Homo sapiens: one gene and its partners. The protein of the gene in region 2 purifies or fractionates together with the protein of the main gene of each other region. This does not show direct contact. Each region holds a gene or a part of one and is shown on either strand. Other genes may lie near its edges. The genes, in order: PCNT, FAM81B and CDK5RAP2.

Region 1 (11,508 bases), on a different chromosome or scaffold from region 2:
ATATCCCGACATGGATAGGTGTGGTGGAGGAGGACATGAAAATAAACGACATGAGGTTGACTTTGAAGGAAATATTTCCTTGAGAGACCATTTTCTTGTGTAAATGGCCTTGTGTAATTTTTCTGGGTCCATGAGCTTGTGTACTTGTGTTATCATTTACACAAATGTGTGTTCCATGCGTTTGTTTTTGTGGCCACAGTTGTCTTTTGAGGGAACAGATGTCTCCCCGTGAAAGGCTGATGTGGGATCGATCGCATACCTCTTGAGTAAGACGTTAGCGGGAGATGAGGCTCGCACATAGTCTCAAACTCTCGGATTTGAGGACTGAGCAGAGCTAGGCTGTGCCTTCTGATGGGCGATGCTCTGTGGATGTCCCTGGTGCTTTGGTGAGCTGTGTCATGAAAAATAGAACATCTGATTCCATAAAGGAAGATGTGAGATTGACCTGGCTTAATTAATTTTTTGCTATTTCTGTATCTTGTCTCAGAATCTATGGCTAGGAAGTTTTGGCTGGGCTATATATTTCTTCAGTTGGGGGAAAATTGGGGCAAGAAGGGAGAGATTTAGCTTTTATATCATTTTAAAACTTAAATATGCCTTGATTAAGCTATCAATCTTTTATACAAATTTTTTTTAAAGTTTTATTTTTCTGTAAACTGCCAAGGGCTAGGAAAGCTATTCTGCCAATCAGCCGTATGGTTTTCTTTACCAGGCATAATTAGCAGTCCTCATTGTTAGACCCCTTGGATATAGATATTGATGAAGGCAGTGTTTGTGGAGAGCCATCTGTTGGCCAGGTGTGGCAGAGTAGACTGGGTCAGCCCTCGGGCCTCATGGTCCCCACCAGTCTGTTGACTTTGTGGTTCTGTTATTTTTTTCTCACTTACCTTTGCCTTTACTACTTATCTACATTTTTGCGCAGCTTGCTCACTTCCGACAGAGAAAAACAAAAGGTGACAGTTCGCATTCGGAGAAAAAGACGGCGAAGAGGAAGGGCTCGGCTGTCGATGCGTCTGTCCAGGAGGAGAGTCCGGTAACCAAGGAGGACAGCGCACTCTGTGGAGGAGGGGACATTTGCAAAAGCACATCATGTGACGACACCCCTGATGGGGCAGGAGGGGCCTTTGCAGCTCAGGTAGATTTGCTCAATGTTGTATTTGAACATTTCGCTTATCTTCTAGTGATTTCTAGTGTGATTTACTAAAGATGGTCTTTGGTCTGTTTTTGCCTTTCAAAAGTGAGGAAAGAGGGTGTTATTTTAGTTTATAAAAAGTGAGGGCCGGGTGCAGTGGCTTACGCCTGTAATCCCCGCACTTTGGGAGGCCGAGGCAGGCGGATCACCTGAGGTCAGGAGTTCCAGACCAGCCTGGCCAACATGGAGAAACCCTGTCTATACTAAAAATACAAAAATTAGCCGGACATCTGGCGCACACCTGTAATCCCAGCTACTCGGGAGGTTGAGGGAGGAGAATAGCTTCAACTTGTGAGGCAGAGGTTGCATTGAGCCGAGATCACGCCAATGCACTCCAGACTGGGTGACAGAGCGAGACTCTCTCTCAAAAAAAAAAAAACAGTGAGTAAATTTTTATGGTTTTATTCTTTTTATTTTATTTTTTATTTTTTTGAGATGGATTCTCGCTCTGTCTCCCAGGCTGGAGTGCAGTGGCGCGATCTCGGCTCACTGCAAGCTCCGCCTCCCGGGTTCATGCCATTCTCCTGCCTCAGCCTCCCAAGTAGCTGGGACTACAGGCGCCCGCCACCACGCCCGGCTAGTTTTTGTATTTTTAATAGAGGTGGGGTTTCACTGTGTTAGCCAGGATGGTCTCAATCTCCTGACCTCGTGATCTGCCCGCCTCGGCCTCCCAAAGTGCTGGGATTATAGGCATGAGCCACCGTGCCCGGCCTATGGTTTTATTCTTAATAAATTTGGGTTTTCTTTTTCTTTTTTTTTCTTTTGTTTGTTCCAGACAGTGTTTTGCTGTGTTGCCCAGCCTGGAGTGCAGTGGTGTGATCACAGGTCACTGCAGCCTCAAACCCCTGGGCTCAAGTGATCCTCCCTCCTCAGCCTCTTAAAGTGTTGGGATTATAGGCATGAGCCACTGCGCCTGGCCCTGTTTTATCTTTATTATGTAATTTTGAGAAGTTTTGGATTAACTACTTGAAGACAAGTGTCAGTTGTTTGCTTTGTAATGGAAGACTGGGAGTTCTTCGTGTGTGGTCGTGTCAGCCCCTTTGATGGGTGTTTCTTGGGACATTTAAAACATAATATTCCTTCACATAGTTGTAAATGCACCTGCTTGTCACATTTGTCTTTTACCTTTTTACTAAACGTGAGATGAAGAGGGAAGGGGTGAAGGTGTTGCAGACATGGTGTGTTGCTGGAGGAGACTGGGTCTGCTGCTTGAGGCCTTGTGAGCTGCAGGGGCACCCCCATGGGCAGGTGTGGCAGGTGAGTGCACACTGAGTCCTGAAGGGGCTGGCCTTCCGGGCTCCTTGGGGGCCTACAAACCTGCCTGGAGGCGGGCTGTCCTTGGGCCTTTTGTATGAATTATGAACGAGGGCCTTAGGTGTTGAGTGTCCCTGCTGCTGCAGCAGAATGGGTGCAGGCTTTGATGTTTGCTAGGATTTGCTGGAAAACTGGTGGCCAAAGGCAGAATCTGGCTCAAGGTCATAATGTATGTATCCTGCTTTACTTAAAAAATTGAGTTGTTGGCAACAGTTAAAATTTGTGTTATTCTACCTACAAATCCTGAATTTTGCTTTTTATCTCTTGAGTGTTTTTGGTTGTTGGGTTGGTGTGTTTTTTTTTTTTTTCCCGTTTTCTTTTTAAGATACAGTCTCTCTGTTGCCCAGGCTGGAGCGCAGTGACGCGAACTCTGCTCAGTGCAACCTCTGCCTCCCAGGCTGAAGCGATCTTCCTGCCTCAGGCTCCCAAAGTGCCAGGATTACAGGATTTCTGCCACCTTGCTGGGCAGAAAGTTACTTTTGATATATTCTGGTTGCATATGTTTTTTGGTTTTTTTTGAAATGGAGTCTCACTCTTTTGCCCAGGCTGGAGTGCAGTGGTGCAGTCCTGGCTCACTGTAACCTCTGCCTCCTGGGTTCAAGCGATTTTCCTGCGTCAGCCTCCCGTGTAGCTGGGATTGCAGGCGCCTGCCACCAAACCCAGCTAATTTTTGTATTTTTAGTAGAGACAGGGTTTCACCATGTTGGTCAGGCTGGTCTTCAACTCCTGACCTCAAGCAATCCACCCACCTTGGCCTCCCAAAGTGCTGGGATTACAGGCGTGAGCCACTGCACCCGGCCCTCTGGTTGCACATACTTTTTTTTTTTCTTTAAGGCGAAGTCTCACTCTGTCATCCAGGCTGGAGTGCAGCGGCACGCCCTCTGCTTCCTGCAACCTCTGCCTCCCGATTTCAAGCGTTTCTCCTGCATCAGCCTCCCGAGTAGCTGGGATTACAAGTGGGCACCACCATGGCCGGCTAATTTTTGTATTTGTTTGGTTGAGATGGGGTTTCACCACATTGGCCAGGCTGGTCTCGAACTCCTGACCTCGTGATCCACCTGCCTCGGCCTCCCAAAGTGTGGGGATTACAGGCGTGAGCCACTGTGCCTGGCCTGCATAGACGTTTTAAAAGTAGTAAGCTGATAAATATATGTGGGAATCTCAGGATCCTATCAGAAAACCATTCCAAACTTAGCACATTTTGTGGTAAATTGTATTTGGAGACTGATGGGTCGTTAACATTAGAAGGCATGGTATAGACTCCTGATTAAACACTCATACTTTGCTGTTTCATCAGGTAGAGACTCTCTTAGTTTCTAACTCTGCTATTTGATGCATGCCTTCATTCAGGAAGATGATCTGATGAAAAGCATTTTGATTTTTGTTTTCAAAACCAGAAGGGCATATACCAGAAAATTAACAGTGGTGGTCAGAAAGGAATAGAGTTGTTGGTTTTTTCGTTGTTATGGTTTTTGGTATTTCCTACAATAAACACATTAGGTTACTTATATAACATTTTTTTTCATTTTAGAATTAACTATACCACTAATAAAACATGTATTTTGGACATCTTAAAGCAATCTATAAATAACAGGCCCATTACTGGTCCCCTTGACTTAGAGATGCACACGCACACTCACTGCACTTGCTGCATTTTGTGTCACCTCCTCGTGACCACAGTGGACAGGACACTTCACCCTCAAGCGTGGGGTGGTGTGGCAGATGTGAGGAGAGGTCTGCTTTCACAAAACTTGGTGAAACAATGGCAAGATGGCCAAGGTAAAGCATTCTGTTACTTATAACTGTTGCTGTGAGTAGTAACTTAACTGTTTAAAGCAGTATTTTAAAAACCAAAAGCTGGTAAAATGTAAGGATACTTTCTCTAGGAAAAGTATGTGCTCCTGCAGCCAGGATTCTTCATGGAATGAAGGCATGGCAGGGCCTGACTGATTTTCATCTCACATCGTCATCCTGAACTCCTCTGCACAGTTACAGCTTGACATCAGCAGAGACATACCTCCTCTTCCTGTCCATTGGCTCTAAAATGGTGGGCAAAGGTCAGGTACCAGTCAGCTTTTTCCACAGAATTCCTGACATTTTAATAAGCTAAACATGCAGTCATCAGGTATTAACCCCTATTGGATCTTGGACATCAGCTTTTTCCCCCTTTTTTTTGAGATAGGGTCTTGTTTTCTTGACCAGGCTGGAGTGCAGTGGCGCAATCATGGCTCATTCCAGCCTTGACCTCCTGGCCTCAAGTGACCCTCCTGCCTCAGCCTCCCTAGTACCTGGGACTACAGGCATGTGCCACCATACCTGGCTAACTTAAAAAAAAATTTGTAGAGACAGTGTTACACTGTGTTGTCAGGGCTGGTCTCAAACTCCTGTGCTCAAGTAATTCTCCCACCTCGGCCTCCCAAAGTGCTGGAATTATAGGTGTGAGCCATCCCACCTGGCTAAAATTTATTTTCTTTATACATGTATAGGTAAACTAAGTAGTATGTGTAGAATAGAGCCATTGTCTTTCTGCTGTACACTAAGTTAGGAATCAAATTTCTTAAGCCATTTTGTCAATTATGTATATAAAAACCATTGGTGCTTTAGAAGCAGATATTTCATTAACTTTTTTCTGATTATATCATTGTACATCATCAGTTCAGTCTAAAAAGGAGTTTTTTTCATATGTATTATAAAATATTTCATGATATTTGAGTTTAGTATGCCTTTAATCCAGTTGTAGATGTTAAAATAGGAGTAATTTTGTGTTCAAAATAATGATCTTCTGAAAAGTGAAATTCTAGGAAAGAGTCCACTGTTTAAAGCTAGCAGCTGGTGGCCGTGTGGCCGAATAATGTCCCAGGCCAGGGCACTCCCCTCTCAGATGGTTGGTCATGCTGCGTCGGAGATCAGGAATCCTCAAGGAACCTTTATGTTATAGTTGTACCAGTGCTTTAAACATAATGAAAGGTGCATTTGTTTTATTTTACCCATCTATAAATTGTGAGAGGTTTGGCTATGGAGAGTCTAGTGAGCTTATTGAACAGCATAAGAAGATAAGTGTGTGTGTTTGTGTGTGTGTGAGAGTGTGTGTATGTGTGTGTGAGGGGGAGGGAGAAGTTATTGTGCTTTCCAACATATAATAAATTGCTTACTTTGATCACTAACTGTTAGGTAAATACTGATGATTTCTAGCATAAGTCTTTTTTCTTTTTTTTGGAGACAGGTCCTCCCTCTGGCGCCCAGGCTGGAGTGCAGTGGCCCAATCAGCTTACTTCAGCCTTGACCTCCCTGACTCAGGTGATCCTCCCACCTCGGCCTCCCAAAGTGCTGGGATTACAGGCATAAGCCGCTGTGCCCAGCTGATATAAGACATATTTTTAACCAACTTTAAGATCTTAGTTTTTTTTCAGGATGGTTATAAGCGAAGGTAGAATTGCAGAAAGACTTTGTGGTAAATATTCAGGATTCGGCTCTGTTGCCTTACAATTTGTTAAGTGCATGATGGAAAAATAGTTGAAACAATGCAACAGCTGTCTCAGTTCTGAAAGTTAACTCAGAAATGGCAGAAAGCAAGGTCAGGCATGGTGGCTCCGAGCACTTTGGGAGGCCAACGTGGGAGGATGGTTGAAACTCTGTCTCTATGAAAAATATAAAAATTAGCTGGGCATGACAGTGCACACGTGTAGTCCCAGTTACTCAGGAGGCTGAGTTGGGAGGATCACCTGCGCCCAGGAGTTTGAGGCTACAGTGAGCTATGGTGGCACCACTGCACGCCAGCCTGGGCGGCAGAGCAAGGCCTTGTCTCAAAAAAAAAAAAATCATAAAAATAAAGCAATGGTAGAAAGCAGAATTTGACCTTTCAGTTACAGATGAGGAACAAAGTGAGGAGAGGCCATTTTTTGGTAAAAGAACCATCTGGCGGGACGCATTGGCTCATGCCTGTAATCCCAGCACTTTGGGAGGCCAAGGCAGGAAGATCACCTGAGGTCAGGAGTTCGAGACCAGCCTGGCCAACGTGGTGAAACCCCATCTCTACTAAAAATACAAAAATTAGCCGGGTCTCATGGCAGGCGCCTGTAATCCCAGGTACTCGGGAGGCTGAGGCAGGAGAATCACTTGAACCCGGGAGGCAGAGGTTGCACTGAGCCGAGATCGCGCCATTGCACTCCAGCCTGGAGGACAAGAGCGAGACTTTATCTCCAAAAAAAAGAGAACCATCCAAAAATTGCTCAGAGGTCAAGAATTTCAGAAGAAAATACAAAAACTTTGGCTGAAGAAGATTTAACTAGTGCTATAGAAGGCTTAAGAAGTGTGGTTCTAGCACTTTTCCAACTCATATTTGTATCAAATACCAGGAAAAATAGTTATCACCATTTATCATCTAGATTTCTGGGCCGTTTTACTGTTTTGTCATTTTAAGTTGTTTTACACGTAATTTACAGAAGTAAGAATAAAGCAATAATTTAAAACAACTTTATAAGAAATTTGATCCAACCTCTTTGTATCAAGTAAGTTTTGACACACAAACATTAGAAGTGTCCTCTTAAGGAAGTGGATGGTCCAGGTTCCTTTGAAGTGTGATCATTCATGTGAGCGGGCAGCTGATTGAGACTACTGTGTCCCCTTTTCGTCCCTCACTTCCTCTTGATTCTGAGAAGATTGATCTAGGGTATTGTCAAATGAAGACTTGTCTGAGATTTTATTTTCACGTCAGTTTTGCCATCATCATTGGCCATGGGTGCTCTCTCTCTGCATTCATCTTGTGACTCATCTAATGATCCCGAAAAGTCGACACTGTCATGTTTCTTTGCTATTTTGGGAAGAAATTGAAATGTTCTTAGTGAATCATCTTGTTAAAGCAAGCTAATCTGGGCACTGTGGCTCATGCCTGTATTGCCAGCATTTTGGGATGCTGAGGTGGGAGGATTGCTTGAGCCCAGGATTTTGAGGCCAGCTTTGGAACATAATGAACAGAGACCCTGTCTCTACAAAAAAATAAAAAATAAGCTGGGCACAGTGGCGCATGCCAGTAGTTCCAGCTACTCAGGTGGCTGAGGCAGGAGGATCACTTGAGCCCAGGAGGTTAAGGTTGCAGTGAGCTGGGATTGCACCACTGCACGCCAGCCTGGGTGACAGAGCAAGACCTTGTCTCAAAAAATTAATTAAATTTCTTTTTTAAAGTAGAATTCATGGCCGGGCGCAGTGACTCACACCTGTAATCCCAGCACTTTGGGAGGCCGAGTTGGGCAGATCACAAGGTCAAGAGATTGAGACCATCCTGGTCAACATGGTGAAACCCCGATTCTACTAAAAATACAAAAATTAGCTGGGCATGGTGGCACGCGCCTGTAGTCCCAGCTACTCAGGAGGCTGAGGCAGGAGAATGGCGTGAACCCGGGAGGCAGAGCTTACAGTGAGCTGAGATTGTGCCACTGCACTCCAGCCTGGGTGACAGAGTGAGACTTCGTCTCAAAAAAGACAAAAAAGAAAAAAAAAATTAGCCGGGCGTGGTGGCATGCGCCTGTAGTCCCAGCTACTCGGGAGGCTGAGGCAGGAGAATTGTTTGAACCCGGAGGCGGAGGTTGCAGTGAGCCGAGGTCATGCCACCAGCCTGGGCGACGGAGTGAAACTTTGTCTCAAAAAAAAAAAAAAATTACAGGCTGGGCACGGTTACTCACACCTGTAATCCCAGCACTTGGGGAGGCCGAGGCGGGTGGATCACCTGAGGTCAGGAGTTCAAGACCAGTCTGGCCAACATGGTGAAACCCCCGGGAGGTTGAGACAGGAGAATCACTTGAACCCAGGAGGTGGAGGTTTCAGTGAGCCGAGTTCGTGCAACTGCATTGCAGCCTGGCAACAGAGCAAGACTCCGTCTCAAAAAAAAAAAAAAAAGTAGAATTCATTAAGAAGAGGGGCAGGAACATCATTAGGGAAATTACTTGCATTATAAAAATGTTTAGAGCTGGCCAGGTGTGGTGGCTCATGCCTGTAATCCCAGCACTTTGGGAGGCCAAGGCGGGCGGATCACGAGGTCAGGAGATCAAGACCATCTTGGCTAACATGGTGAAACCCTGTCTCTACTAAAAATACAAAAATTAGCTGGGCGTGGTGGCGGGCACCCATAGTCCCAGCTACTAGGGAGGCTGAGGCAGGGGAATGGCGTGAACCCAGGAGGCGGAGATTGCAGTGAGCTGAGATTGTGCCACTGCACTCCAGCCTGGGCGACAGAGCAAGACTCCGTCTCAAAAAAAAAAAAAAAAATGTTTAGAGCTTGGGAATTGTTAATGCGGAAGGTGCACGTTCTGAACAGGTGGAAGTGAGCTCTACTTGTTAAATGAAGTCAGCACAGGCCTGCAGATAGAGGAGCTGGGAAGGGCCTGAGGCTGCAGCCCTAGACCTTGCTTTAAATGCTTCTTTCTGGTCCTCCCCTTCTTAGCCGGAGGACTGTGATGGAGAGAAGAGAGAGGACTTGGAACAGCTGCAGCAGAAGCAAGTCAATGACCATCCTCCAGAGCAGTGTGGGATGTTCACAGTCAGTGACCACCCACCAGAACAGCATGGGATGTTCACAGTCGGTGACCACCCACCAGAACAGCGTGGGATGTTCACAGTCAGTGACCACCCACCAGAACAGCATGGGATGTTCACAGTCAGTGACCACCCACCAGAACAGCGTGGGATGTTCACAATCAGTGACCACCAACCGGAACAGCGTGGGATGTTCACAGTCAGTGACCACACACCAGAACAGCGTGGGATCTTCACAATCAGTGACCACCCAGCAGAACAGCGTGGGATGTTCACAAAGGTATTCTTTAAGTTCTCTGTTAAGGTGTATTCTTTGTCAAAAGATTTCTTTATGTTGTAGAAATCCAAACCAGTGAGAGGACCTTCCATCTCTGCAGGGCCTCTCTTTAGAAGTGGAAACTGGAAGCATAGAGAGCTGGAGGCAGAGGCTCACCCTGTAGGCCCCACGTGCTGCCGCCTGCACGTTCTTAGTGTTGCCTGTGAATGGGAAGCCTCTCTTCATACCCTTCTCCCTGAGCTCAAATCTGCCTCCCTTGTGATCTTCCTTTTTTGTTTTTCCCATGGGACATTGAAGAGAAGCCACCCTTCATAAGTTTGAGGAATGTCATGAATTCCCTTTATTCTAGTTGCCCTTGTCGATTGACTCACCTGTCTGTTCAGCCTGTTTCTTAGGCCTGGTACCTCGTTTCTCACATCATCAGTTTGTGACTGGAAGTCCTGTGCCAGTTGAGAGCCTGGCAGGGCAGGGAGGCTGTGGTCAGTCTGCATGTCCCTGGTTTCTGCCACGTTCCTGGTGGGATGAATTCCATACGTGTTGAGTTGATTACCTTTATTTTATTGACATGTTTTTTGTTAGCATGTGGAGGAAAACATTAAGTTTGGAATTGACTACTTTTGAAGTGTTATGTTAAAAGCATATATTTTAGGCTGGGCACGGTGGCTCACGCCTGTAATCCCAGCACTTTGGGAGGCCGAGGTGGGCGGATCACGAGGTCAGGAATTTTAGACCAGCCTGGCCAATATGGTGAAACCCCTCTCTACTAAAAATACAAAATTAGCTGGGTGCCACTGCACTTCAGCCTGGGAGACAGACCGAGATTCCATCTCACAAAAAAAAAAGCCTCTATTTTAGCCATTTGATTCTAGCTAGACTCAGTTCACACTGCTTTAGGCAAGTTTGGTTGTTTTTTGGTTTTTGGGGTTTTTTTTTTTTTTTTAAATAGAGACGGAGTCTTGCTCTATTGCCCAGGCTGGTGGTGCGATCTTGGCTTACTGTAACCTCCGCCTCCTGGGTTCAAGCGATTCTCCTGCCTCAGCCTCCCAAGTAGCTGTGATTATAAGCACCCACCACCATGCCTGGCTAATTATTGTATTTTTAGTAGAGACAGGGTTTCCTCATGTTGGTCAGGCTGGTGCTGACCTCAAGTGATCTGCTCGTCTCAGCCTCCTGAAGTGTTGGGATTACAGGCGTAAGCCACTGCACTTGGCCGGCAAATTGTTTGTTTTTTGAGATGGAGTTTTGCTCTTGCCCAGGCTGGAGTGCAGTGGCGCGATCTCGGCTCACTGCAACCTCCGCCTCCCAGGTTCAAGTGGTTCTTCTGCCTCAGCCTCCCAAGTAGCTGGGATTACAGGAGCATGCCACCACGCCTGGCTAATTTTTATATTTTTAGTAGAGAAGGGGTTTCATCATATTGGTCAGACTGGTCTCGAACTCCTGACCTCAGGTGATCCTCCTGCCTTGGCCTCCCCAAGTGCTGGGATTACAGGCGTGAGCCACTATGCAGGCCAAGTTTAGTTTTTAATCTGCATTATTGCAGGAAAGATCTAACTCCTAGGTGAGGCCTGGAAGCACAGTCTCTGGTGGGTTCTATAAAACCCACTCTTCATTTATTTATTGACTTCTTGGGACCGGGTCTCATTCTGTCCCCTGGGCTGGAGTATGGTGGTGCCATCACAGCTTAGTGTAGCCTCAACATTTTGATTCTTAAGTTGTTGCAGCTCTGTCCGTGGGGAGCCCCTTCAGGTGGCTCCTGTGTCATGTGTTTGAAGCACATCCTGGCTTGTGACACTGCAAGTTGGTGCCGCAGGCTCATCGTGTAGGCCCTGTCTCCGTTCTGAGTCCGCTGTTTCTCCAAGGAGTCTTGGTGCCTTTTACTAGATTATGGTGTTGAGACCAAGACCTGGGCTCTAGGTGTGCTCACTCCTGCTGGGATGTTGCTGCTGCTTCTGGGCTCTCTCCGTGGACAGAGTGAGGAAGGGTGTGCCTGGGAGCTAGTCTGTGTGTACACTCATAGCTGTATTTATGTTCATTTGTATTTATAGACATATATGTTAAATAGGAATACATACTGATACCTCAGAGCCTAATCCAGCACCACAGAGTTCATTCTGCCCTCCCCCCCAGGTTTATTTGCAGTTTCCTTCTCGGATAGTGAGAAGCCTGGCTCTCACTTCTGCCATTTATTTACTTTAAA
Region 2 (11,508 bases):
ACATGGATGAAGCTGGAAACCATCATTCTCAGCAAACTAACACAGGAACGGAAAACCAAACACCACATGTTCTCACTCACAAGTGGGAGTTGAACAATGAGAACACATGGACACAGGGAGGGGAACATCACACACTGGGGCCTGTTGGGGGTTGGGGGCTAGAGGAGGAATAGTATTAGGAGAAATACCTAATGTAGATGATGGGCTGATGGGTGCAGCAAACCACCATGGCACGTGTATACCTACGTAACAAACCTGCATGTTCTGCACGTGTATCCCAGGACTTAAAGTATAATTTAAAAAAAATACATTCCTGATTATTTTAGAGCTGTCTGATCCTAAAAAAGTTTCTAAAGGTCTTATAGAAGTATCTGTAAAGAAATGCTCTTCTAGCTAACTATAGATGTTATGGGGGGATGGGGGAGAATTGGGATAAGTGAGGAGAGGGGAAATGTAAAGCAAATTGAAAGCCTCCCTTTAAGCCAAGCTATATGTACAGAAACTGCCCTCAATTAAAAAAAAATTAGCAGCACTGCAAAAATTCACTTGTCATAGTTCCTGACCTGATTCAGCATTCTGGTTACCTAGATACAAATGTAAACAAAAGTGCCTCTCCAACTGCGACTGCAGAGGAACAGCCAGTTGAACCTGATGGCCCCCTTCCTGGCTCAGACAATAACCAAGAAAAGAAAGCAAGTACTTTTCAATATTCACATTAAAAGTAGAATACTTTGCTCAGCTTCTTTAAAGTTTAGAGTGCTTAGAGAGTTTAAGAAGTTCTGGAAGAATAGTTCTCCCACATTTCCTGTTTGTTCTGTCTTGGCAAAATGGCTGCTGAAAACACAAGCTGAAAAGAAAAATGACCTCAATTTACAATTTCATTAATTAGACTGATTTTTAATATATGGGGCTAAAATTCTTTTAAGTTGATCATTATGTATGTTTTATGATGATTCAAAAGGAACCATGATAAACTCAAGGTGCAGACTTTATCTTTATCTCTAACATGAAAACCGGTATAGCTAAATAGAATGTTTCCTTTATTAGAACTTGTCGTATCTTCTCCGTTAAAAAGAACATTTTTTAAAGCAGTGTTTTTAGACTTTTTTTGCACTTCTCTTAACACCTTGTAATTTACATAACAAGAGGCAGATGCAGTCACTTGTTACATAAAGCACTAGCACAATATCAAACATTGATTTTTGGTATGTATTATATAATAGGCTGTACCACATACTAGCTGTGGGACTTTGGAATGATTACTTAACCTCTGTTTCTTCTTCTGTAAAATGGGTGAATTAGGCTTATCATACAAAGTTATTGTGGGTTTGAATGAGTCACTTAAGTAAGTGCTTAGCAAGTAGGAAGGGCTACAGTATGATTATCATCATCATCTACATGATCTTGGGCAAGTCCCGTACTTCTCTGATCCTGAAGCTCCTCACCTATAAAAAATAGTCATCTTAATTTCTTTCCATAATAAGGGTTTCAGCTTCTTAAGGTAACTAATGTCATCCTTACACTAATGGGAAGGTAATGATATCCACTTTATAGGGCATTCATGTCAAATAAAATTATGTCATATACAAGAACGTATTTCATAGCCCATAAAACCAAAAAGCTATAACATTCAAAGCATTATTATGAAATGGATAAAACTGATATATGTAAAAAAATTCCCATAGTGGCCATCAAGTTGTTTGTGAGACAGTTTTTATATATAATAACATCCTAGCTTATAGGAATGAGGATAAAACAGAACTGACTCTTATGTTCAATTAGCAAAGATATAAAAATTTAAATACTGTCTTAGATACCTAAAAATTACATTTAAAAAATTGCACCAAAAGCCAACATCAGTGGCTTTTGTTCTAGGTAGCAAAATTACAAGCGAGAATTTTTATTCTGTATCTTTAACTTTTCTATACTTTTCCAAATATTCCTCCATTGTTATGCTTAACATTTGTCACTTAAATAGTGTGTGTTGTAGGTGTGTTTTTAAGAAGATGCTACTTGTGGTCTTTCAAGTAAGACTTAAAAATTAATAAAATAAAAATAAAACATAGATCTAATTGTTACACTTCAGAAGGAGAAAGGAGGACAAGTTAGTGCCCTTGGACACTGTATTCATCATACACTTTAATTCCACAAATACTTGGAGAGGACTACTCTCCAAACATATAAGGAGGGACCAACCGGTTGCTGAGGAAATGCCAAAAATAGATCCCCACACAGACCAGAGGGAGCAGTGGAAAGGTGAGGAGGAAAGAACTGGCAATGAAGTAGGTGAGGTCTCAGGACTCAGTACTGTTTCAGTGGGAAACAGGAGTGAAAACACTCTCCACGGCAGAAGGCATCAGGTCCTCTGACTTAGGAAAGTTTCCATAACGTGGCCACCTGAGTGCCCAGTGAATCAGTAGATCCATTCTCGAGGGGAAGACGTGGCTTAACAGCATTAGACCCATTGCAGACCCCATTCAGCAATGCGGGGAGGGTACAAGCTCTCTCCTGGGGGTTCACAGGCTCCCTCGTGAGCAGCCTCGAGCCTTTTCTGCCTGCCCACCACCAACAGGGCTGGGTCAGGAGAGACTTTGTCAGGCGTTCTTTACAGCATCCCTGAAAATGGACTTCACATTTTTTTAAGGTTTTTTGAAGGAGTGAGGTATCCAATTAAGTTTCTTAAAACTTAAGAAGTAGTAATTCCTTGGGCATTTGAAAAAGGAATGCTTTCTGTATGTGAGTCTTAACATATTCTGCCCACCATTATAGTACACAGTAACATAAAGCAAGAAAAAATATCCTAGGAATATATTTTGTTAAAGTTTTTAACTGAGGTGGAATACCACTCATATTCTCCATATTGAATCCAGTTCACCAATAGGCTATTAAAATTAGGATAAATCTGTCTTGTTTTTTTAAACTTAAAAGAACATTAGAATTTAAGGCATTTTCGGCTGGGCGCTGTGGCTCACGCCTGTAATCCCAGCACTTCGGGAGGCTGAGGCAGGCGGATCACAAGGTCAGGAGATCGAGACCATCCTGGCTAACATGGTAAAACCCCATCTCTACTAAAAATACAAAAAAAAATTTAGCCAGGCGTGGTGGCGGGCGCCTGTCGTCCCAGCTACGCAGGAGGCTGAGGCAGGAGACTGGTGTGAACCCGGGAGGCGGAGCTTGCAGTGAGTGGAGATTGCGCCACTGCACTCCAGCCTGGGCGACAGAGCGAGACCCCGTCTCAAAAAAAAAAAAAAAAAAAGAATTTAAGGCATTTTTGAGATATGAAAAACAGTGAGTACATTGGGTATCTTCTTTCCTGTCATAAAAATGCTGCAAATTATCAACTTTCATGAAAATAGAACTTTCTAGTAGTACCATTTTATTGAATTAGAAGTTGCCAGTTAAGTGTACATATGGCCAGCTATACTTAATGTTGGTAAATCATGTGTATGACTGCTCTGGCTATAATAATCTGACATCCAGGTACTTGGATAGGCTAGTTTTCTAGTTCGGGGCTTTGTGTTTGAAAATTAGCTGTTTCTCCTTAGAAATCAGCATGTCAGGAATCATCCACTCTGTGAAGACTTCTTTAGTAACTCAGTCAATAATCATTAGATATTTCATTTTAAAATTATCTAAGAATAATCTATGGCTTTGACTTTTCCAAAAAGGTTTTCTTGACTGTGATACCAAATCTATGAAATACAGCTCTCTAGTATCTCCACAGAACTTAATTTTGTTTTTAGTCATTAGCAATACAAAGGGGACATGTGTAAGATTAACTGAGCTGATTATCTGGTCTATGGTATACATTTTGTTTAAAATTAAAACTCTTTAAAGATAAACTGCATAGAAGTAATCTGTAAAGAAGCAGATGATATATTCTGAATCTGTAACCTTTGTTTTAGGTAAGATTATCTCCAGCCAAAATGTCAACCAAGAATTCTACAGATCTAGTTGAATATGTTGACAAGTAAGTGTGTAAATTACAACTAGTTTTAACTATTAACTGCATTTATTGTGACAAATCTCACACGCAAAAAAGAAAAAATCCTGTGTTTAATTATTCAGTCAGAGATGAATGTACCTGAATGAAACCTTTAAGTTCTCTGCATTCAGAAGAGATTAAATCATGTCAGAAAGACAAACCTGATCCTGTTCCTTTCTGATTGACAGAACAAGCAGATTTAACTACCTTTTCTTTAAATGACCTCCATAGGTTCCTGTAGATTTATGTGAAAAGCAATACAACATATTGCATATTGCAACAATATCAGATATAGCTAACTATTGACTTCAAAATAAACCAAGTAAAGCTGTTAACATTTCATGATAAAAACTCAGGAAATTTTGAGATATATTTCACTAATCACTAGAAGATGTTGTTTCTGCTATTTACAGTGCCATACCTGGAGCTCCCCCAGGAAAGGTGTACCACAGAGGGACAACTCCAGGCACTTGGAAATAGAGTAACACACTGTTAACACATGCACATTGTCCAAAATACCCAAGGATGCCAGTGATGAAGGTGGCATTGCAAAGGCAATGCATATTAATTTGAGTTGTTTTCTATTCCATATGTCAAAGCAGGATTTGGTCTAATGCTGTCATTCATGTTTTCAGGGCACTGGGGATTTAGTGTCAGTCCTTCTACTACTTTGCTGTGTAACACCAGTCAGTTCCATAATGTCTCTGGGCTTTAGTTTTTTCATTTGAAAAACAAAGAGGTTGGACTAGAAACTACTGCAGCTTTAAAATAATTCTGATTTTAATAATCATGACCACAGAAGAAAAAAATAGCCAAATGAATGAAATGAGTTCATGTGAAGAGAAAAATCTAAATACACCTTGAACTTCGATTTTTTAAAAATTATCTTTAACAATTAAGATGATAAGATTTCTTCACTAATTTTTACTGCATTTTTTTCACAAGAATTCCCCTGTCCCTTGGCCAGTTAAATTTAATACATTCCAAATAGTTCAATCACAGTATGTTAGCGTTAGCCCCTTTTTTCATGTTCCACATAACTTGTATTTGTTTATATGACTATGAGTCTATGATTTAGAAAAAAATAAAACTAAGCATGGGAAAAATATTTTTAAATGTTTAAAAAATGCAATATTTGGACAGATGACTTTTCTTCTGAGTTAAGGACAATGAATGTAGTATGCACAAAAATAATTATTATAAATAAATGTATTAGCTAACCTTATCTTCCAAGGAGAAAAGGGAAACTTGTCCCCACCTGACTCTCTACATGACAAATGGAAAATAAAAATCATTCTTCTGATCCGTCAAATTCTATTACAAACCTGTGTGGATTTCTTTAGCTCAAGCTGGTGATGTACATCCCAGGAGATGAGAAAATAAATTCCTGGAAAATGGTAACAAACTTAAGCAGCAGAAGATAAACTTTTTGGATTTCTTTGGCTTTCAGATAAATTAAAATGAAGACAAAGAGGAAGAAATAGTCTATAATGCAAAGCAAAAGCATGATAAAGATTACTTCACTCCAACATTTATTTCTACCTTAATCTCTCCCTTACCCCTTCTCTTACTATCTAAACCATATATCTGGAACTTTCTATTTATGATTTCACATTGTTAATTGTCTTTTGGTCTCTCTCTTCGCATCTCTCAGAACAGGCTGCAAACTCCCTAAAGGAAGGCACTCTATGGCCTTATGATTTTTGATATCCCTCCAGTAGCCTATCATGATGTACTGAATACACTTGATGAACTGTAGTTGACAGATTTAATGGAAAGTAATGGTAGAACAATTGAATTGTTATAGCTTTGCTTAAATCAGCTGATTAACTGGAAAAGCAAAATGGCATTTGGGCATTTCAGTAATAAGTGCAGACATTTTGAATTGACATATTCAATCCAATAAAATAAAAATAAAGAACAATGGTTTTTAAAATAACTTCACTGGCCAGGCACAGTGGCTCACATCTATAATCCCAGCACTTTGGGAGGCAGAGGTGGGCAGATCACCTGATGTCAGGAGTTGAAGACCAGCCTAGCCAACATGGTGAAACCCCATCTCTACTAAATATACAAAAATTAGCCGGGCATGGTGGCGTGCACCTGTAATCCCAGCTACTCGAGAGGCTGAGGCAGGAGAATCACTTGAACCCGGGAGGTGGAGGTTGCAGTGAATGGAGAGTGTACCACTGCACTCCTGCCTGGGTCACAGAGTGAAACTCAATCTCTAAATAAATAAATAAATAAATAAATAAATAAATAAAAAACTTCAGCCTTCAACTCATAGTTTTCATTGGGTGACAACAAATGGATTGACATGCAAACAGAGTACTTAAGTAAAAGTCATTATCAACTCATTAAATGGCCTGAGTTTATATTACAGGTTTTCAGAGGTTTGGCCTTAAAACCTATATGGGTATATTTACAGGTAATACTATGAGCAAAGAATAACAACTCAAAAAGTAAAAATCCAGTCCCTCAGGGAGCTATCTAATAATGCGTTTGGAGCCATTCTAGCAGGAAGGAGAGAAATGAATTATTAGATAGCTGGCCGGGGTAGGCCTCATTAAGAATCTGACATTTGAGAAAAGACCAGGAAGTGAGGAATTTGTCCATATGGACATCTAGGGGAAGAGCAAAGTTTCGAAGGCAGGAATATTCTTACGGTGTAGCAGGAACAGAAAGGGGGCAAGGATGGCTAGGGTGAAAAGGAGGGAAATACAAATTGGAACTATGATAGCATCTGGGATTCTATTTGAAAGTCTCTGGAGAAAATGAATCCTGAGTTTCTGCTGCCCATGAGGCAAATTCCAACTTTCCTGAACAAAAAGGAGGCCAAGGAACTGAGGATTTTTACTGAGTTTTCCAGGCTGGGCTATAGCCAATATATAACTCAGGAATTCTCTCAAGAGTACATTTTGTGAAGATGAGGGTCTGGCTGACAGCCAAAGAATGATATTTAAAATCTGGATACATAAAACTTTCAGCAAGTCAAATGGGCAAAATAATAAATGATTAATGACTTCCCCTCATGAGTAGAATATGGAATTCAGGGTCTGAAAGTATTCATTTTCAAGGTTTTTCTTAGCACCATGGCAGACACTTTATTATTCCGTGATGCATTGCTTTTGTTACTACATGGTGAAGAGAGATATTTCACATTACAATGCATGAGAAAGGAAGACAAAACTCTGTTGGTTGAACTTTCTATGGATAGATCATGTTAGGTTGGATGGTGCTACTATCAGCCACAGTGCAGTCTTTTGGTCTTTCTCTTTCTTCTTTTCATGCCCCCCCCCACCCACCTGTGATGGGCAAGGCTCTGCTGAGAGTGGGCACAGTCACAGGGATTGGGCATTACCCATAGGGACCCCCAATTAGTAAGGGAAGGGGCTGCCCAAATGATGATCAGTCCCTCCTAAGAGGCTGTCTGGATTCTTGTCACATTTAAGACCTTCTGCTCAAGCGTGAGAACTCCACTGAGGTCAGGCTGATGCTGATCTCAGTTCTCTAGAGCACAGAGGGAGCCCCCACCAACCTCTGGGCCTCTGAGAAGACCCTTAGGACTCCGAGGAGAGATGGGAGCCAGGCAGGAAAGGTGACTTGGTGAAAAATTACATGATGTTGGCAGCAAGTTACATATGAAGAAGCAGAGGGAAAGACACACCTTTCTCCTCTGAGAAAAGTGCAAATGTAACAGGAAGAGCCACTAACTGGCCTAAGCAAAGCTGCTGTGATGTAGGAGAAAGAGGAGAGGCTAACTAAAATGTTTCGCTGCTGAGTGACTCATAGCCTCCATGCCTCAGTTTCCTCCTAAGTAGAGACAAATTTTACTCATGCCACAGGGTAGTGGTGGGAATGCAATGAAAATGATACATTGACTATAAGCACTAAATAGAAATAAGATAGTGTTATAATAAATTCCTTACATTTCTCCTGGGCTAGGAGCTCCCTACCACAAACTGCGTGGCTTTAAACAATAGAAATGTATTACCTCACAATTCTGGAGGTTGGAGGTCTGAAATCAAAGTGCCAGCAGGACTGGTTCCTTCTGAGGGCTCCAAGGGGAACCTGTTCCTTGTCTCCTGCCTAGCTTTTGGTGACTTTTGGGAGTCCCTGGCACTCCTTGGCTTGTAGATGTGTCAGTCCAATCTCTGCCTCCATCTTTACATGGTATCTCCCTGTGTTTCTGTCTTCCTACAGCCACCTTCACATACATACATACATACATACATACATACATACACACACACACACACATACATACATACAGGCATCTTCACATCGACACCAGCCATGCTGGATTAGGGGCCCACTCTACTCCAGTAGGACCTCACCTTAACTAATTATATCTGCAAGACCCAATTTCCAAATAAGGTCACATACTGAGGTATTAAGCTTTAAGACTTCACTGTTTCTTTTGGGGGGACACAATTCAACCCATAACAATATTTAATAATTATAAATTATTGTAAGAACACATATATACAACATTGTACAAGACATATTTACAAGACATTGCAGAGTATTTCAGGTACACATCCTTTAACTTGATCTCGTCAGCCAGGTGGGAGGGTCAGGAGTCCCTCTCTCCACAGAACAGAGAGGGAGCCCTCTTCCGGGCAACCTCAGAGAGGTTGAAGTTAGCTTGTGACAGAGATAGAACTTGAACCCAAGTCTTCTGACTCCAAGTACAGCGTTCTTTCCCCTGGAGACTCACATTAAACACTCCCCACCCCCACCCCCAAAGACCAAAGTAATATGGGAAGGTATCTCAAGAGGGCCACAAATGCTACAGGAACTCCCAACATCATCAAAACAATTTGCTACTGCAGTTTGCATATGCTTCACCTGTAAGTATGACCCAGACATCCACCCTGCCCTCACTGATACAGGGACTCTGTTTGGAACCTTTGTCAACCTTGATGCCTCCACATGAAGGAAAACCAATCGTACCAGGCACATCACTCATTTTGCAATCTTACTAAAAATTTTGCTGAACATGAGGAGTCTGCCTTATAGAGCGCATCACTTTTCACTGGAAAAGAATCACAACCAGTTCTTTCTCCAGTCTCTTCTGGACCGTGCCACTATATGGAGTTCTTTTTGGGCCCTTCCTGATGCTCTGTGCTGGCCCAGCCCTGTTGGCCTGGTGTACTTCCTTCTGCACTGGGCCCACCAGAACTCAAATTGCCTGCCTCACCCCCCAGAGCATTCAGCCCTACCTAAAACTCAGCAGTGGAAGTCTCTCCAGCTACAAACATCCACTTGCCAGGGTGGTTATAAACAAGCAACACAGAAACTATAGAAAATGTTTTTTCTATTTCATCACTCCCCACACACACTCATAGATTATTTTTGTGAGGCATCAAAATATTCTCTGAGATTTCACTTCAGGTTTTTTTTTTGTAGGACTCTCTGCACTCAGACCGTAACTAGTCATATATTAGATCTCATAAAAATGTAGAAATCTTTCTTCGGTATGCCTTTTTGTGTTCTAGAAAAAGGTTTAAATTTTCAAGTTTGATTCTCTGAGTATTACAGGTTGCCAAAATGGTTACCAGAATCTCCCCAGTAAATTTAGGGCTCTATTCACAAGAACAGAACAGGCAGGGAAGTGAGAGGCTCCATGTACCGGCTGATCTGCCAGCTACAGCACAGCTGGTGTAAGTCACACCGAATTACAGAAAAATAGAACTCAGAGTTTGTGGAAAATCTGTTCAGATTCAGTTGTCAGCTACATAATCAATGATCTATGTGAAGCCCAAATATCTCTCTGAAAAGGCCCCCTAGGAATTTTTCCTCCTGTGGTTGGTGACTCCATCTGCACTAGTCTGGAATATCCAGTTATTTCTTTCCTTTCATAGTTAAATTTAGATCTAGGTCCCACTGACATACATAACATACTAAGAAAGCAGTGAGGTTCTTAAATTTACATCTTACTACTAGGGAAAGCCCTCAGTTTTTATCCCTTAGGAATACCTAATGATTTGAATAATGGCCTCGTCAGGAATCTCTCTTAGAAAATTGAGACATGCTCATGTGTTTGTTCTTCCATGGTTGATTTAGAAAGGTCAATTGGAAAACAATATTCTCTGTCCTTGTGGCAATGCAAATAGGGAAAAAATATAAGCTGTCTGTTGATCTTCAGGAACCATGTAAATAAAACCAAACAGAGCCATCATTTGGTGCTTCATTAAACCTTAAGAATTAGCAATAATAATAAGACTACAGTTAATAGTAAATCCCAGGCCTGAAAAGGAATTTCAAAAAGGAAAGCTCTCCACTTAAACATAAAATAAATTTTAAAAATAATCTTTAAAAATTTAGGAGAAGAAATAACTACAGTCCAGCATTTGCATCCCACTTAATGTCTCCATGGTTGCAGGCAAATAGCTTTGCATAGCAGTAGGTGATACCCTCCTAAAAGTCTTCCTTCGATGGGCCAAATAGCCACAGCATTGAAATCAGCCCTGACAGACAAGACCACAGACCTGCTGGCTTGGGTCTGCCCTCGCATTGCTCTCTCTGGATATAATCTTGACATTAGCCAATAGCACCTCACCCGCAAGAGTGAGGCCCTGGGACCCTCTTAACCTCAGACATACAGGTGTGTGGCATTGGTTTCACCACCCTCTCTACTGCATGCATCTCACTTATTGTCTCAGAACTTACAACCACACAGCAAAATAGGCCTTGTTGGCCCTGTTTACAGATGAAGCAATTAGAACACTCGGTTGGTAAGTGGTGGAGCCTGTGTTCTACCCTCAGTCTACCTTGCTTTCCAACCTGCCAAGCTGCTTCTGGATGTCTACAGAACTTGAGAGCTCATATTCCATAGTTCACTACTTTAGCACTTCATTATATATCCTGCCTTATATTATTCGCTGATTCACATGACCAGTCTTGAACAAATCAGTGGTGTTTAGTCTTTAGGATACATTAGAATCACCTATGCGCTTGCTTAAAATGCATATTCTTACTCTCCCCGCCTACCCTAAAATTTTGATTCAGTAGGTTTGTGTTGGAGTGGAGTAATCTGTATTTTAACAGCTTCCCTCCCTCACCCTCCCCTGTGATACCAATTCAAGTATAAGAAATACTGAATTAACTTAAGTTCCTTGAGGAACAGAGCCATTATATGTAAATATGTAGTATTACAGGTATGGACTAGAGTAAATGTGTGTATGGACTAGAGTAAATATTGTATATGAACTAGAGTAAATATTTAGTAAGTACTTAATGTATCTTTATTTGAAATGACATTTTTATTGGTAAGTGACTAGATACAGACACAATGCTTTCAGCTGCACATAATAGAAGCACTAACCAAAAATGGTTTAAATGTAGAAATACTGATTAGCTCATATAACAAAAAAAATCCAGAGTTTGGTAAATTTAGTAGCTTCAGAACATCATTAAGCAGCCAGGTGGTTTTTTTTATTCTTTCTCTCTGCCATTTCCTTTTTCCTCATGATCACAAGATGCCTTTGGTAGTTCCAAGCATCATGCACAGACAGGAC
Region 3 (8,512 bases), on a different chromosome or scaffold from region 2:
TGCAGTGGAGTGATCTTGGCTCACTGCAACCTCCGCCTCCAGAGTTCAAGCAATTCTCATGGTTCAGCCACTTAGTGGCCGGGACTACAGGCATGCCCCACTACGCCTGGCTAATTTTTGTATTTTTGGTAGAGACGGGGTTTCACCAGGTTGACCAGGCTGGTCTTGAACTCCTGGCCTCAAGTGTTGTGCCTGCCTCGGCCTCCCAGAGTGCTGGGATTATAGGTATGTGCCATTGCGCCCAGCCTGTCTCTATGATTTTGACTACTCTAAGTGTCGCGTATAAGTAGAATCATACACTATTTGTCCTTCTGTGACTGGTTTATTTAACTTAGCATTATGTCCTCAAGGTTCATGCGTGTTGTAGTATGTGTCAGAATTTCTTTCCTTTTTAAGGCTTTTGTTTTTAATTTTTTTTAGAGACAGTCTTGCTCTGTTACCCATGCTGGTCTTAAATTCCTGGGCTCAAGTGATCCTCCTGCTTCTGCCTTGCTAAGAGCTGGGATTACAGACACAAGCCACTGTGCCTGCCCTTCACTGATATTTTTATTGTCCTTTTGATTATAGCCATCCTTTGGGTGTGACATGGTAGGTATCTCATTGTGGTCTTTTTTTTTTTGTCGTTGAGACAGAGTCTCACTCCCTTGCCCAGGCTGGAGTGCAGTGGCGCAATTTCGGCTCACCGCAACCTCTGCCTCGTGGGTTCAAGCGGTTCTGGTGCCTCAGCCTCCCAAGTAGCTGGGACTACAGGCACGTGCCACCATGCTCGGCTAATTTTTATATTTTTAGTAGAGACGGGGTTTCACCATGTTGGCCAGGCTGGTGTCGAACTCTTGACCTCAGGTGATCTGCCCGCCTTGGCCTCCCAAAGTGCTGGGTTACAGGAGTGAGCCACCCCGCCTGGCCCTCATTGTGGTATTGATTACATGTTAATGGCTACTGATGTGTTGAGCATCTTTCCATGTGCCTTTTAGCCATTTGTTCACTTTCTTTGGAGAAATGTGTATTCAAATCCATCGTCCATTTAAAAAACGTGAATATATTTTGACCCAGCAATTCCACTTCTTGTCATCTATTCTAGAGAAATCCTCATACTTGTGCATATGGGACCTTATAAGGACATTCATATGACATTGCATGTAAAAGAAAAACTTGGAAACAAATTGAATTATCATCAGTAGGGGATTGGGTAAATACACATCCTTTCAAAAGTATCTTTCAGACTGTGGCCCGTTGGTAGCTCATGAAATTCAATTTAGTAGGTTGCAACCAGGATTTAGAAAAATAGAACAGAATAGAAAACATTTCAAGGATGAAGGGTAATAATATTTCTTCTGTGGCTCATGGTCAGTAAGGTTTGAAGAACACTGCTGTAGAAAGCTTTGTAGGAGTTGAAAACTTTGAGGCATATCTATTTGTACTGTCATGAAAACATCATGAGGGCATATTAAGTAGAAGAAGGATGTTGTAGCATGATGTATACTGTTTGATTGCATGTGTTTTTAAGCAGCAAAATTGAAACTATCTATGTAAAAACACATAAAAAGTTCTGGAAGTTATAGGTCTTTTTGAAAACAGTGATTACCTCCTAGGCGGGTTCTAGATGGGAGCGAGGAGGAGCCAAGGAGAACTTTAGGCTTATCTGTATTTTTTTAAATTTATGTATTTTTCTCTAATTAAGAATAAAATAGAATGAAAAAGGGGTTGTTAAAAGACAAAAGTGAGTTTGTTTGTGTAATCGTTGTCAGAATGTGATATCTGGTCTCATCCATGACTCTCATGAAACAATTTGTCAAGGAGACATAAGACCCCTTGGGTCTTATGGTTTGAGTGGACAATTGTTGCTGGCATATGTAGGCATAGAAAGAGGTCAGTCCTTTTCGGTAGCAATAGAGCAAGATAGGAGGATGAGGTGGTGGAGCTCAGGTGAAGGTCCATTCAGTCACTCAAAAATTATCCACAAACAGTTGCTACAGCTGGGCGCGGTGGCTCACGCCTGTAATCCTAGCACTTTGGGAGGCTGAGGCGGTCAGGTCACCTGAGCTCAGGAGTTCAAGACCAGCCTGGCCAACGTGGTGAATCTCCATCTCTACTAAAAGTACAAAAAATTAGCCGGGCGTGGTGGTGCATGCCTGTAATCCTAGCTACTTGGGAGGCTGAGGCACGAGAATCGCTTGAATATGGAAGGTGGAGGTTGCAATGAGCTGAGATCACGCCACTGCACTCCAGCCTGGGCGATAGAGTGAGAGTCTCCAAAAAACCAAAACAAAACAAAACAGTCGTTATGATGGCTGTGCCCTGTGCTGAGTGATGGAAATTTTATGCCTCAGTCCATTCGGCCCTTAACCACCACCACACCCCTGCCACCCCCAACCTCCGGGAAGGCGTCAGGGGTACCAGGGTGGTGTAGGTTCACAGCAGGGGGTTTAAAGTCAGGCTGGCTTGGAGTTTCCAGCCTATTAACTTTTTGGTCTTTGTTTCCTCATTAAAAAAAAAAAAAAAAAAGGCAACATTAAAAAGTACCACCAGCCGCAGAAAGACTATAGTGAGGATTAAACCTGATTTTAGTTTCAAACATTCAGTTTAGAAAATGGACTTTAATCCTGTGGTGAGGATGAAAGGGAAGGCTGCCTGTCCTGTGCTGAGTGTGGTGCTTGTGCAGCATGGGTGCCCCATACAAGGGCAGGTTTCTTAGATTGTGCTTTATTTTGCACGTGAGGAAACTGGTACTCCACCATGTGTCACATTTATATAGGAGCTTTGGGCAGTCCACACACAGGCTAGCAAGTGGAAAAGACACTGGGATCCTGGATTTTGGGCTTGGCTTTGCCACTAACTTTTGTGATTTTGAGTAAATAAGTTCCTAACCCATTTCTGGGTTTCAGTCTTCTCATCTGTGGAATAAGATCATATCTGAGCCCTTTTGTTTTGCTTACATTGTCATTTCTCGTGAGTATCCCTGAGGCCCCAGCCTTAATTATAAGGCTACAAGTGAATGATTAGAATGGAAAGAGGGAGCTGCTTGTGGCTGGAGGTGTAGTTGGAACTGACTGGAGGGTGCAGATGACAGATTCATAGCATTTTAAAAGTGGGTAGGTAAAGCCCGAGTGGAAATTTGGCAGGATCCAAGCAAAAATTTCTGCATTACATAGTGGTTTTGTCTAAGAGTTGGGATGTCAGATGTCATTTTTCAAACTTCAGTGTTTGCCTGTAGGAAGCTTGTCTAAGACCAGAATCTTTGGCTTTGTTTGCTAGGTACTTTTCAGCTGTGATTGATCTTGGCTTGAGTTATTCATGGGCAGTTTTAGCCAGTGGGAGTTAATGTAATGGCTCTGGTACCCGGAGAGAACCCCAGATTGAGAATGCAGGACCAGACCTTAGGCTGAGCTTGGCCAATAACCTGGTGTATGTGACCTTGGGCTTCTGGACCACCATCTGCAAAAGGTGATGGTTGAACTTGATTTTAGTTTTTAAAATTCAGTTTAGAAAATTGACTTTGTCCTTTTAGTGATGTTTATTGGAGGAAATTGAGAATTATATAACATTAAAAAGGAAGAAAACCTCTCATTTCCCTACTAATGATGATTTTTAATATTTCAGTATATTTCCTTTGTCTTGTTATATATCTGTAGCCCACCTATTTCCAAAATGGACTTGAGGTGACTTCAGTATTTATGTACTGTATATATTTGTTTTCATAATTGAGGACATATTCTGTTTACGTTTTTTCATTTACCTTTACAGGGGACACTTTTTTTTTTAAATTTTTTTTTTTTTTGAGATGGAGTCTCACTCTATCACCCAGGCTTGAGTGCAGTGGCATGATCTCAGCTCACTTCAACCTCTGCCTCCTGGGTTCAAGTGATTCTCCTGCCTCAGCCTCTCAAGTAGCTAGGACTACAGGCACCTGCCACAATGCCCGGCTAATTTTTGTATTTTTATTAGAGATGGGGTTTTACCATGTTGGCCAGGCTGGTCTCGAACTCCTGATCTCAAGTGATGCACCAGCCTTGGCCTCCCAAAATACTGGGATTATAGGCATGAGTCACTGCACCCAGCCCGGACACATTTTTTTGTGATCATTTTCTTAATGTTGGAATTTTATGATATTTCCAATTTTTTGCCTGTTTTTGATCTTGAAGGTACATTCCAACTCCAAAGTTTGGTGGTCAGGCAAAATTATCCTAGGAGCACAATGAATTTGGATTTAGAGGCATGGAAAGAGCAAATTGCCAAGAAGTCAAGCTGTTTCCATCAACTCCTACTTTACAGTGTGGGATAGGGAAGTATTCGTGGGAGTTGGACATAAAAGACCTGGCTTCTGGACCTGGCTCTCCACAGAACCGCCATGTGACCCTGGCTAGGACAGTAAAATTGTCTGGGCCTTGGGGCCTTCCTTTGAAAAATGTGTGCACCCTCAGGGAATTAGGCAATTCTAATGATGGTAAATCTTTTATAAATTGTAAAGCACTGTAGGTTTCAAGGCGACATGATATTTTGCTCCCATTTGTGGAGTACCCACAAGGTACCTTGCAATATCTTGTTTAATTGCCAGTTACTCTGTGAGGTAGCTGCTGTACTCATTTTACAGCTAAAGAAAGTGAGGCTCAGAGAGATACATGGCAGAGCTTAGAATAGATCAGGGTAGTGTCTTTTGTGTCACACCACACCTCCTATTATGGGTTAGTTTTCTGTCAGTGTCTCCAGATCCTCACTGAATTTATTTATGTAATTCAACCAAGACAACTTCTTGGATCAGTGAATTTTGCATTGTTTGACATTCTTAAAACATCTAAATTGGTGTCTGATTCCCAGAGGTGGTGATAGGCATATTAGTAGTCATAATGATAATAGTAACAACAACAATAGTTGCCGTTTACTGAATACTTACTATGTGCTTTGTGTTTATATACATGAACGAATTTAATTTTTACAGGGAGGGCATGGTATCCTCATGTACCAGATTAAGAGGGTGAGACTCAGAAACATAAGTATCTTGTACTTGTCACAGTGCCTCTGCCACTAGCACATATTTGGCACACAGAACATTTGATGTATGACTGAATGAATGATGTTACTGAAGGTCACTCAGCTATCAAGTGTTGGAGCTGGAACTCAGCCCCAAAGCCTGAGTTCTTAACCTCTGTGCTTCATGCCACATAGGTAGCCCAGCTGTGTGCATCCCTCCTGGCCATGGGATGATTGTCATGTGCAGTCCAGACCGTCTTAACAGTCTCTGTTGTTCAAACATTAGCTCATCTCTTATCTCATGTGTTCTCTCCTAGTGGCCTTGTTCCCAGTGTACCAGATGACCTGGATGGCATCAACCCCAATGCTGGGTTGGGAAATGGTCGTAAGTACACAAAACCAGGCATTCTCTTGAGTAAAGAACAAGGAAAGTAGACATTGGACTGTGAGCATCTTGAGCTTTCATATCTCTGGGGCCCAGAGGCTTCCCTGAACTGGCACACCGTAGGTGCTCAGTATTTTTTGTATGTATTGATTTGCTTTCCACCTCCTTTCATAAACACTGGACTAGAGGAATTGTTGTCCTTTTGGCCATACTTCATGAGTTTCATTTGTTGCTACTAAAGCTATAGGGATTCAGTGAGCGTTTGCTGAACTGAACAACTGCACGGAGGCTGGACATTGAATTGGCAGCTAGGCCAGTGGCTGGAGGCCCAGGAGAGCTGCCATCTGGACTGTAGCGTGCCAAGGCCTTCCTGGCAGGCTGCTGGATCCTGTTTGCCGGCTGAGGCCCCGCATTCCTACACGGGCCTGCCCTTTGGAGACAAATAGCTGGTTAGACCACAGGAGACGGCTCTGAGTAAATAAGTAGCGTACTGTGTTTAAGCTGGATTATGAGGAGACTTTGCAGTTTGGGTCTAGCTAAGCATTCTTCATAATTTTTATTTCTGAAAAAAGTGAATGCTTAAGCGTCTCTGTGGGTAGTGCTAGTTTTTGCAAAATATCTCTAAGATATTTTGACTTGTTCTTTTTTTTCTCTTCTCCACAGTGCTGAGATATGTGCAAGAGGAGGGAGATTTTGGAGCAGACAGGAAAAGAGTCCCACGGTTTATTTCTGGAAAATCCCTTAACTTACAGGGCACCTTCATGTTTTCCTGAGGAACCTATTAACTTTTACTTTATTTTTACTTTTTATTTTTTTGAGACATGGTCTTGTCCTGTCACCCAGGCTGGGAGTGCAGAGGTGCGATCACGCACACTGCAGCCTTGACCTCTTGGACTCAAGCAATTCTCCATCTCAGTCTCCCTAGTATCTGGGACTACAGGCGTGTGCCACGACACCTGGCTAATTTTTGTATTTTTTGCAGGACGGTTTTGCCATGTTGCCCAGTCTGGTCTCGAATTCCTGGACTCAAGTGATCCACCTGCCTCAGCTTCCCGAAGTGCTGGGATTACAGGCATGAGCCACTGCACTCATTGGCAACTTTTACTTTAAATGCAAAATCCAACAAGTCTGATTTGAGATGGAGTCTCGCTCTGTTGCCCAGGCTGGAGTGCAGTGGTGTGATCTCGGCTCACTGCAACCTCCGCCTCGTGGGTTCAAGCAATTCTTCTGCCTCAGCCTCCCGAGTAGCTGGGATTACAGGCACGTGCCACCACACCCAGCTAATTTTTGTATTTTTAGTAGAGACAGAGTTCACCATGTTGGCCAGGCTGGTCTCGAACTTCTGACCTCAGGTGATCCACCCGCCGCAGCCTCCCAAAGTGCTGGGTTTACAGGCATGAGCCACTGTGCCTGGCCAGCCTATTTCTTAATTTAGCCGATAGTATACATTTGCTTCATGCCAGACTCTGGGCTCAGTGCTAAAATTCAACCTCAAATGTGGTTACTGTTAAGCTGAGAAGACAGACAAACCCTTATGAGAATTTGTATGGTCAGTGTCAGGAGCAAAGATGTATCAAGTGCTGTGAGAGGGGATTAAAGGGAGATTTCCTCTGGTGTGGAGGTGGGTCAGGCTAGAGTTTCCCAAGAAATTGATATTGGAGCGGAGACCTGAATAAGTCAGATGTAGGTAAGGAAAAAGGAGGGGATGAGCATCCCAGACACAGGTGAGGGCATGGCCCGTTTGAGGAACAGGAAAACAAACTAGCGTGCCCTTCACAGTCTGCCCTGCCCACTCCTTAGCCTCTTTTCTGCTAAGTGGTTTCCGAACACCATGCCCACTCCCACCTCTGTGCTTTTGCCTGGGCTGTCTCTCCTTCCTTTTGTTTCTCATCTGCCCGGTGCCTCCTTGCTCCCTCTTTAAGACTCAGCTCAAAGCTCACCACCCTTTTTGGCTCTCCCCAGGCTGACTAAGGTGTACTTTCCTCTCTCAACATTGTGTATTTCACTTCATCTCATCTCATTTCATTTATTCCTGTTGGCTACTTTTAAAGTATCGGAATCAGACTAGTTCTCACCCACCTATACTCCTTCCATCCTACTCCAACCCACCATGATCTGCGGCCTAGATTATCCCAATATTCTCCTAACTGGTTTCCCTGTTTCTCTCCTAAGCCCCTTACAGTCTGTTCTCAGAAAGGCAGCCAGAGGGAGCCTGTAGAAACCTAAGTCGAATCATCTTACTCCTTAGCTGCAAACCTTCCAGCAGCTCCTCAGAGTCCTTAGAAGAGCCTAAAAACCGTATACAGTCTGTCCCTGTTTACCTCTCTCACCTCCAGTCCTGCTATCCCCCTTTGTTTATTGAGCTCCAGCCTATTGGCCTCTTGACTGTTCCCCAGACCCACAGGGGACCGTGCTTCCACCTCAGGCTTCTCCCTGAATGTGGAGAATTCTCCCCCAGGTAACTGGTCCTTTCTCTTCAAGTCTGCCCAGATGTCACCTTCTCATTGAGACCTTCCTTAACCACCTTACCTAAAATGGCAGTCCTCACCCCATGCCTCCTATTTCCTATCCTTATCTACTTTATTTTTCTCCATAGCATTTATCACCTTTTAACATATTATGCAGTTGTCCTTTTGTTTTGTTTATTGTGTTTCCTCCCTCTAGACTATCGGCTGCATTTGTTTGTTTCCTGATGTTTCCACATCTAGAAAGGGGCCTAGCAGAAAGTGGATTCTCAGTGCATATATTTTGAAAGAATGAACTTATTCACTCAGCACACATTTACTGAACACCTACAAAGTGCCACGGGCTTTATTCAGCCTGATAACAGTTAGTTTAGATCTCCATCCTGCTCACTCGATAGGGAACCTCTTGGATGCAGGATTAGTGTCTCCTTCACCATTGTTTCCTCAGCATGCAGGATGGGGCTTGGCACCGAGTAGGTGTGTAATACATGTTTGTTCAGTTAAAGATGCTGCGGAGAGATTTGGGTATTGCCATAGTCTTTAAAACAGGTCAGCAGTTTCCGGTCCACTGCTTGCTTTTGAAAATAAACTTTTATTGGAACACAACCACTTTGTTTATGGATTGTTTGTGGCTGTTTTTGTGTGACAACAGAGGATTTGAGTAGTTGTGACAGATTTTAGGCTTTGTGTATGG

What was found.
Region 1: the proteins of FAM81B (region 2) and PCNT purify together in Homo sapiens (affinity purification with mass spectrometry; 2 studies listed by BioGRID and IntAct, with this or other methods). This does not show direct contact.
Region 3: the proteins of FAM81B (region 2) and CDK5RAP2 purify together in Homo sapiens (affinity purification with mass spectrometry; 2 studies listed by BioGRID and IntAct, with this or other methods). This does not show direct contact.

Annotation. Positions count from the first base shown.
Region 1 is NC_000021.9:46,325,455-46,336,962, forward strand, and holds part of PCNT (pericentrin), read left to right. Parts: intron 1-833; coding exon of another isoform or gene 834-922; coding exon 923-1,135; intron 1,136-8,942; coding exon 8,943-9,314; intron 9,315-11,508. Other genes in the region: uncharacterized LOC128092249, read left to right, coding at 834-1,037. UniProt on the Homo sapiens protein: Integral component of the filamentous matrix of the centrosome involved in the initial establishment of organized microtubule arrays in both mitosis and meiosis. Plays a role, together with DISC1, in the microtubule network formation.
Region 2 is NC_000005.10:95,392,206-95,403,713, forward strand, and holds part of FAM81B (protein FAM81B), read left to right. Parts: intron 1-588; coding exon 589-692; intron 693-3,905; coding exon 3,906-3,970; intron 3,971-11,508.
Region 3 is NC_000009.12:120,568,815-120,577,326, reverse strand, and holds part of CDK5RAP2 (CDK5 regulatory subunit-associated protein 2), read left to right. Parts: intron 1-5,285; coding exon 5,286-5,353; intron 5,354-8,512. UniProt on the Homo sapiens protein: Potential regulator of CDK5 activity via its interaction with CDK5R1. Negative regulator of centriole disengagement (licensing) which maintains centriole engagement and cohesion. Involved in regulation of mitotic spindle orientation.